2 linked regions of the Homo sapiens genome follow. The protein of the gene in region 1 purifies or fractionates together with the protein of each later gene. This does not show direct contact. Each region holds a gene or a part of one and is shown on either strand. Other genes may lie near its edges. The genes, in order: RBM38 and LARS2.

Region 1 (4,252 bases):
CCAGGGCAGAGGGCTGGAGGAAACGCGGAGAACTCCTCGGTGCTGGAGGAAACGAGGGGAACTCCTCGCCGGCCTTGCGGTCCCCCACAGCCCACGGAGTGCCACTCCCAGTCCCCACAGACCCCACCTGCGTCGCCCTGTGCTGAGAGGAGGCCGCAGGGCTGGGGCCGGGAGTGACCCCAATTAGAGCTGCTGTTTCCCAGCTGCATAGGTCCCAACCGCGGGGGCTGGAGATGAGGCGGGCTTGAGGCCCCTAGTCCCGGCTTCAGAGGTGGAGGGTGTGACCCGCAGGTCCGGGATCCCGGGGTCTGTGCAGTCACACGGCCCTTCCCTTCGCTCAGGAAAGCCCGGGGCTGAGTTTCATGCTCAACCGCTGCCAACTTGAAATTCCTAGCTTTTGAATAAGGGGCCCCGCGTTTGCATTTTGCACTGGGCCCCGAAAATTCTGTGGCTGGCCCTGCCTGGTGTGAAGCTCACAGAGCCCCACTATGCGCCGCCTTTCTATGGCTGGGGGCCGGATGAGGGACCCGGGTCTGCTCTTACTCGCCCCAAGGGTCCCTGACACCAGCCCAGAACGGGGTGGAGCTGGAAAGAGCCCACACCTGCTTCCTCTGCCCACCTCATCTCCCGCGGGGCCTCTGAGACCGCCCGGGACCCGCTTCTATCGCGGCACCGTGGTGTAGCTCCCTCCGGGGTCGTATGCTGTATGTTTACTAGCCGAATTCTCAGTCCTGGACGCTCCGTGGGGCCAGGGAATATGATCTGTGCTCCGCTGCAGCCTCGCGCCCAGAGTAAATATCGGTCGGATGAACTAATCTTACATATAAAACAGAAATCATTTCCCTTTTTTAATATGGCACGTGGCTCTTCCCTAAGTCGCCCTGGGTTAAATACCGACTCAATTAACAAGATGCTAAAAACCGTTTACGTTTTTTTACGTTTTTTACGTTTAATTCACCAGACGGTGCGCTCCACGAGGGAAGGGGCCTGGCCTCCCTAGTTCAGGGTTGTGCTTAGTGCCTGCAACCGGCCGGGCCCGCGGGGGCAGCCAGGAGAGAAAGGCGCGCCCAGCGCCCCCAGGCCCGGATCCGCCCTCAGCCCGCGTGCGCTCCCCTCCCCCCTCCCCCCAATCGCCGCGCGCCCGGGTGCGGCTGGGCGGGGTTAGAACTACGCTTCCCGGCGGTCCCCGCGCGCCCGGGGCGGGGCGGGGCCGGCTGGGGGCGGGGCTGAGCTGGCGGGGGCGGCAGGCTACAAAGCCCGGGGGCGGTGCCGGGGCGCAGAGTCCCCGCAGCGCCGGTCGGGAGCGCAGCGCGGCGCACGTCGGCGCGCACGGCGGGACGGGCGCCGGAGTGGTCGGGCCTGGCGGCTGGACGGGCGCCCCTCGCTGCCCCGCGCGCTCCCCGCCGCCCCCCATGAGCGCAGCCCCGCGCGGCCCGGGTCCGTAGGCGGCGGGGCGCCCCCCATGCTGCTGCAGCCCGCGCCGTGCGCCCCGAGCGCGGGCTTCCCGCGGCCCCTGGCCGCCCCCGGCGCCATGCACGGCTCGCAGAAGGACACCACGTTCACCAAGATCTTCGTGGGCGGCCTGCCGTACCACACTACCGACGCCTCGCTCAGGAAGTACTTCGAGGGCTTCGGCGACATCGAGGAGGCCGTGGTCATCACCGACCGCCAGACGGGCAAGTCCCGCGGCTACGGCTTCGTAAGTGGCCCCCGCGCCCGGGCCCGCACCCCGCCGCACACCTTATCGCGGCCCGGGCGCCGAGTCCACTCCGGGGCACACGCCCAGACGGCCCGCTGCCGCCCCCGCCCCAGGCGCCTCCAGCCGGCGCCCGCACCTGCCGCCTCTCCCGGGCGCGCTCCTGCCGGTCCCGCCCCCACCACCCCAGGCCCCGGCCCCCACCCCCACCCCCACCCCCACCCCCACCCCCGGTTTAAAAGGAAGAGCCGCTGTGTTCAATTAGGACTCCTAAGTTGGTGGGGAGGTTTTGGAGCCAGAGGGCACTCGGGATTTCCTGGAGCAGCGGGGGGTGAGGAGCAATGGCTCCACCCCGGGGTGTTAGGAGCTCTTCGGCCTCCCCCATATTTTTAACAGCCCTCTCAGCCGCCCCAAATAAACATCAGCTTAAGTAAAAACGTCTTGAAGACACTTTCCTGCTTACCTTCCAAGCATAGCGTCGCAAACTCCTTCTCAGAGGAAAGTCTCGGCCCTCACTGGTGGGCAAGTCCAGGCGGCCCCCCAAGCTCCCTTCGGGGTTCATTTTTGCCCTATCCCCGCAGGGGATTATTTTTGTCCTTGAAGGCCACATTTCCCAGGCCTTGAACTTTGACGGGAGGAGCTGGAATCCAGGAGGCATCTTTGTGGGAGAGCCCCAGGTAGGGTTCAGAGGAGCTTTGGCTCAAGGACCCTGGGTCACAGGCACCCTCAGAGGAAGGGAAGAGAGGGGTGGCAGCATCCGGTGCCAGGGCGGAGCCGTCTGCCCCTTTCGCCCCTGGTTCCCCCCACGGCAGCCCCTGATGTGTCTCTGCTCCACCAGGTGACCATGGCCGACCGGGCGGCAGCTGAGAGGGCTTGCAAAGACCCGAACCCCATCATCGACGGCCGCAAGGCCAACGTGAACCTGGCATATCTGGGCGCCAAGCCGCGGAGCCTCCAGACGGGTGAGAGCTTGTGTTTTCCTGCCTGGCTCTTCTCGGTTTCTATATTGGGTGTCGGTATCTGTCGGGTGGAAAGAGGCCCCCCCTCCTCGCCCCAGCAGTGGCAGTCGGCTATCATGTGCCTGCAGAGCCGGCACAGGGCAGCCATCCCCCCCTCGAGGATCTAGACCCCTTCTCACAGCGTGTGGCCCAAAGAAGGGGGCGGGGGGCAGGGAGGGTACTGCACCCCAGTTGCCAGCTGTCCTCGCAGGAGGGAGGAAGTGGCCATGGGGCCTGGAGGTTGGGAGTGCCGACACCAGTGGCTGCTGACACCTGCGTCACTCACTGCCACACTTCAGCGGTGTGCCTTGGGGTTCACAAGGGGGAGGCCTGGGAGGGGAGAGGAAGCGGATGATCCCTTTTGACTAGAGGTGTGTGGCTTGTGGGATTCTGCCACCCTGTGTGCAGCCCTTGAGACGTGGCTCGTGCAGCAAGGCCAAGTCCCTGATTGTTCTCTCGTTTTAGGCTTTGCCATTGGGGTGCAGCAGCTGCACCCCACCTTGATCCAGCGGACTTACGGGTGAGTGGACATGGCTGGCTTGGGGTGGGTAGTCCGTGGAGATGAAGTGGAGAGGGCCTTGGGCTTCCTGGGTCTGGAAGGCTGGGGAAATGACAGTTTTCAGACATTTGATTGCGTTTAAGCCAAGGGAGTGAAGAGAAGGCAGATTGCACTTCTCCATCCCTGGCAGAGGCCATACCACCTAGGGGATGGTGAGCCTTGGAGCCTGCCTGCCTTGGTACACACCCCAGCTCCCTTCGCTAGGTGTGTGGCCTCAGTTTCCTCACCCGTAAAATGGGAGTGGTCACAGCACATCTGAGTTCTCTGAATGGAGGGCCTAGGGTGGGCCTGGTGCAGGTAACGCCCTCTTGAAGTGTTTGCTGATGACTCTTAGGGACTGGCAGGCTGAGTTCTTCCCCAGGCACTCCTCTCACCTGTTCTAGTGCTGGGGCAGGTGGTGGCAGTAGGTCATTGCTACCAAGGTCTGATGTTTGTGAACGTTGCTGTAGATACGATGTGTTTGGGGTGGAGGCCACCTGCCTGAGTGGCCTGGCCTATGGGCTTCTAGTCTGACTCATTTACAAGCAGCGCAGCCCACTCTTCTCCATCCTAAAACGCCTCCCACCTCCCTGCCCTTTTTTAAAACATCTAGTAAGTCCTGGCAGCTGCTTGGGGAGGGACACACACACTTAAGGGATACAAAGAGTCCTGCCTTGCGGCCTGCCTCCCCACCCCCATGATGGATGGAAGCTGTCTGCCCTAGCGCCGTGGCATATTGATGGGGTTGGAGTTGGAGGGGAAGGCAGCTCAGAGACCACCACCCCTTTCAGGGCATTGGCACTTCATGAACTTTCTGAATCCAAATCCCTAATGCCAGTTGATCACGTGTGTGTGCTCACGCATGTGCGCACCACGTAGATTCCATTGAGAGAGACACAGCTTGAGGAGTAACCTGCCTGACTGGGGCAGTGTGGACAAGGATCCTGTGGAACCCGGCTGAGCCTGGCTCCCAGGTGAATGGGTCCCCTGGGGCCTGGCTCCCAGGTGAATGGGTCAGAG
Region 2 (3,807 bases), on another chromosome or scaffold:
GTGGGCTGAGGCTCCTCCACCTGATCCTCCTTCCTTTCCCTTCTCCTTTCACACCTGTCACAGCTCCATCGTGGTCTAAGAGCACTCTCTGCCCACTCCTCCTCTTCTCCCCTTTAATCTGCACAGGCATTTCCCCCCAAGAAATCTCTTGCATGTCTAATTCCATCTTGGTCTTTGCTTCTAGGAGGAGCCACACTGACAAATGCTCAAAGACATCAGCAGGGACGTTTTACCTGTGTGGATTATGAGGGTCAGTGTATCTGAAGTAGTACCAAGCAGAATCAACAAAGGTATCCATCGTGTCTGTCTCTCTCTTGGCTGCTCCCTTGCACCTAAGAAAGAAATGAAATTCATCAATTGGTTTCTTTTTAAATTTTAATGCAGTTTTCCATCAGCTTTTGAGAGAGCTATAAGTATGAATTTAAAATGTCATAAGAATAAAGCCACAGGCTGGGTGTGGTGGCTCACGCTTGTAATCCCAGCACTTTGGGAGGCTGAGGTGGGTGGATCACGAGGTCAAAAGATCGAGACCATACTGGCCAACATGGTGAAACCCCATCTCTACTAAAAATACGAACAATTAGCTGGGCGTCGTGGCGTGTGCCTGTAGTCCCAGCTACTTGGGAGGCTGAGGTAGGAGAATGGCTTGAACCCGGGAGGTGGAGGTTGCAGTGAGCCAAGATCGTGCCATTGCACTCCACCCTGGTGACATAGCAAGACTCTGTCTCAAAAAAAAAAAAGAATAAAGCCACATATGAAAAGACAATTCAGGGAAAGCTCTCTTTTTATATTGTATAGTATGCGATGTTTTAAAGAAATTTATTTACAAATAAAAGTTTCAATTTTCAACAATTAAAAGCCTTATTTTCCACTTCTCTGAATTTAACCTGGTAGAAAGCCTCACCATCCAAAAGGACAAGACAGGATTAGGTATCTCTTTTGTGCCTTAACTTCTGTTCCAGGCATGTCAAGATTGCCTTCGCCAATGCCTACTTTATGATGCTTATGAAGCCAATCAATGCATGAAGACAAATGAGAACCAAATATAGGGAGATGTGTGGAAAATCAACTTGGATTTTTCTTCTACTTCTGTTCTGGGGTGACAGGTGCAGAAATCTACCAGGATGACTCGAGGAAGACAAACCAACTTGGAAGCCCCAAAGGCAATGGTTGCTCCAGCTCATGCCAGCCTGTAAGAATCAATTGGGGCATCTCTTCACAACACTGTGACAAAAGATGGCAAGTTGGTAGCTTGAAACTGGCCCTGATGGGAGTATGTACATCACGGAAATTGGCAAATGCTAGAAATCAGGACCCCCCTCCAAAGCTAATTACATATCTACCATGAGACCACTGCCTAAAGGTAGGTTCCTTATGGAAGAGTGAAGAAAGCCCTGGTGTTCAAGACAGAGAATAAAGTGAGATCCTTGATATGTGAAGGGTTGCATAGAAAAAGGAATCCCTGTCCTAGGGACAGACATGTCCAGCAGGACCAAGGTCTCACAAGGGCCCAAGTGTTACACTCATTATTTTTATTTTGAGATGGAGTCTGGCTCTGTCACCTGGGCTGGAGTGCAGTGGCTCGATCTCAGCTCACTGCAACCTCTGCCTCCTAGGCTCAAGCAATTCTCCTGCCTCAGCCTCCTGAGTAACTGGGATTACAGGTGCATGCCATGATGCCCGGCTAATTTTTGTATTTTTAGTAGAGATAGGGTTTCACCATGTTGGCCAGGCTGGTCTCGAACTCTTGACCTCAAGTGATCCGCCTGCCTCAGCCTCCCAAAGTGCTGGGATCACAGGCATGAGCCATCATGCCCAGCTGCTACACTCATTCTTAAGAACATTCCTAGAGTTGTGGGCCTGTGGGACTGAAGGAACCAGGTGCCAAAAGCCACACTACCTAGGAACTCAAAAGAAGGTGCCCTTAGTCAAGCCTAGCACAGGACGGGGATTAGCTGCCTTGGAGACTCCTCAAGGCCTGGATCAGCAGAGAACCAGCACCTTCTGTCTGATGGGTAGGACCAGCTATCAACAGGGCCTTCTGTGGCAGTGGGAAGCCATAGCAGGCTCTCCCTTCTAAGGCATGGATGTGAAGCTCATCGCCCCTCCAAATATTGCGCTTTGGGCAGTGTAAGTCTTTGGGTGTTATTGGAGAATTTGGGGAGAAGGGATGAGGAATCCCAAGAGGAACTGATAAATCTTCTGCTAATTTAGCATGTATGGGCTTGAGTGTATTTTTAATTTAAGAATAAAAGAAGGGTTGTATTTCTGTCTTCCATTTGTGAAGTAGTTCATACCAGCTTTACAAATATTACCCAAGGAAATGGCCAGTCCCCCACATAGTCCTCCAGCTCCCTCGTCAGCTGGTTAAATGCAGTGGCTGAGCAGAGAGCATGGGCGCCCTAGATCTGGCAGGGCTTTGGGACCCCCTGCATTTTAATCAGGGGACCTCCCAATGAGAACAGTGGTGGTCTCTAAGAGTAGAAGCTTTTCAGAGAGAGCCCTCGGGGAACCCAGCTTCCTACCACCCAGGGCTGCTCTAAGAAGCTGATCTCAACAGTGCGCCTCTAAATTGAAGCCAGGTCTTTTTATTTGGAGAGCAATCAACCAGAACACAGACACTACTTTGGGAAATAATTAGAAAATAAAGATTACTTCATCTTCCTCACTTACCTTGTGCAAGTGAGGTCCAAGTGAGGGAGAAAATGCGGGCTCAATTTATAAAAGGAATAACAGCTGGCTAACATTTGCCATGCTGATTTCCTTTTTAATGGTCTTGTTGGACTTGAAGGCAACTAACATGTTTTATTGCTGATACTAAAAACTAGATGATAAGGAAGAAGCTACGTGGCAAGCAGGAGGGATAGAAGTGATAGATAATGGTGATAATGTTATCAGGATTAGCTCCAATAGTAATAATAATAATACTGGGTAGTAGGAACTGAGCCAAGTACCGCAGAAGTATTATCTCATTTAATCCCCAGTAGCCCTGGGGATTATGAGACCGATACTGCTCATATCCCCATTTTTCAGATGAGTAACTAGGATTCAGAGAGGTTAAGAACCTTGTCCAAGGTCTTGTAGTTCAAGGGTAAGGAATCCACATCTGGTGGGCTCTGGTGCCTGTAGTCTGTACCACTGGGCTGCCTTGCTCGGCCACACTGGCTCAGTAGCTCTCAGCCTTGGATGCTCATTAAGATCATCCAGGGGCTGGGCGTGGTGGCACACGCCTGTAATCCCAGCACTTTGGGAGGCCTAGGCGGGCAGAACACGAGGTCAGGAGATGGAGATCATCCTGGCTAACACGGTGAAACCCCATCTCTACTAAAAATACAAAAAATTAGCCGGGCTTGGTGGCGGGCACCTGTAGTCCCAGCTACTCGGGAGGCTGAGGCAGGATAATGGTGTGAACGCGGGAGGTGGAGCTGGCAGTGAGCCGAGATTGCACCACCGCACTCCAGCCTGGGCGACAGAGCGAGACTCCATCTCAAAAAAAAAAAAGATCATCCAGGGAGCCTTGCCCAACACCAAGGCCTAGGTTCTGCCCTCCAGTAATTCTGCAGCCAAGCAGGAAACCTTATCCTCATCAATAAGGCCACAACTGCTGTGCTGTATGCAGGCCACCAACATCTCTGGTAGGGAAGCCCTTTGTCAGCGCTTATCAACAAAGAGGGTGTGCTATTTTCCTCCTGGAGCCAACATTTCTACCCTAAAATGGTCTGGGCCTTCCTATATACCTCCCTCCAAGTTCCACCTTGAATTTCAAAACTGCCTCAGTGAGGACCTGGGAGGATGGCTGGCAAGTCC

Evidence for each region.
Region 2: the proteins of RBM38 (region 1) and LARS2 purify together in Homo sapiens (co-immunoprecipitation; one large-scale study listed by IntAct). This does not show direct contact.

Annotation. Positions count from the first base shown.
Region 1 is NC_000020.11:57,390,120-57,394,371, forward strand, and holds the start of RBM38 (RNA-binding protein 38), read left to right. Parts: upstream 1-1,276; 5' UTR 1,277-1,462; coding exon 1,463-1,699; intron 1,700-2,159; exon of another isoform or gene 2,160-2,277; coding exon of another isoform or gene 2,278-2,373; exon of another isoform or gene 2,374-2,534; coding exon 2,535-2,658; exon of another isoform or gene 2,659-2,937; intron 2,938-3,159; coding exon 3,160-3,214; intron 3,215-4,252. UniProt on the Homo sapiens protein: RNA-binding protein that specifically bind the 3'-UTR of CDKN1A transcripts, leading to maintain the stability of CDKN1A transcripts, thereby acting as a mediator of the p53/TP53 family to regulate CDKN1A.
Region 2 is NC_000003.12:45,492,800-45,496,606, reverse strand, and holds part of LARS2 (leucine--tRNA ligase, mitochondrial), read right to left. Parts: intron 1,364-3,807; exon of another isoform or gene 1,107-1,363; intron 333-1,106; coding exon 234-332; intron 1-233.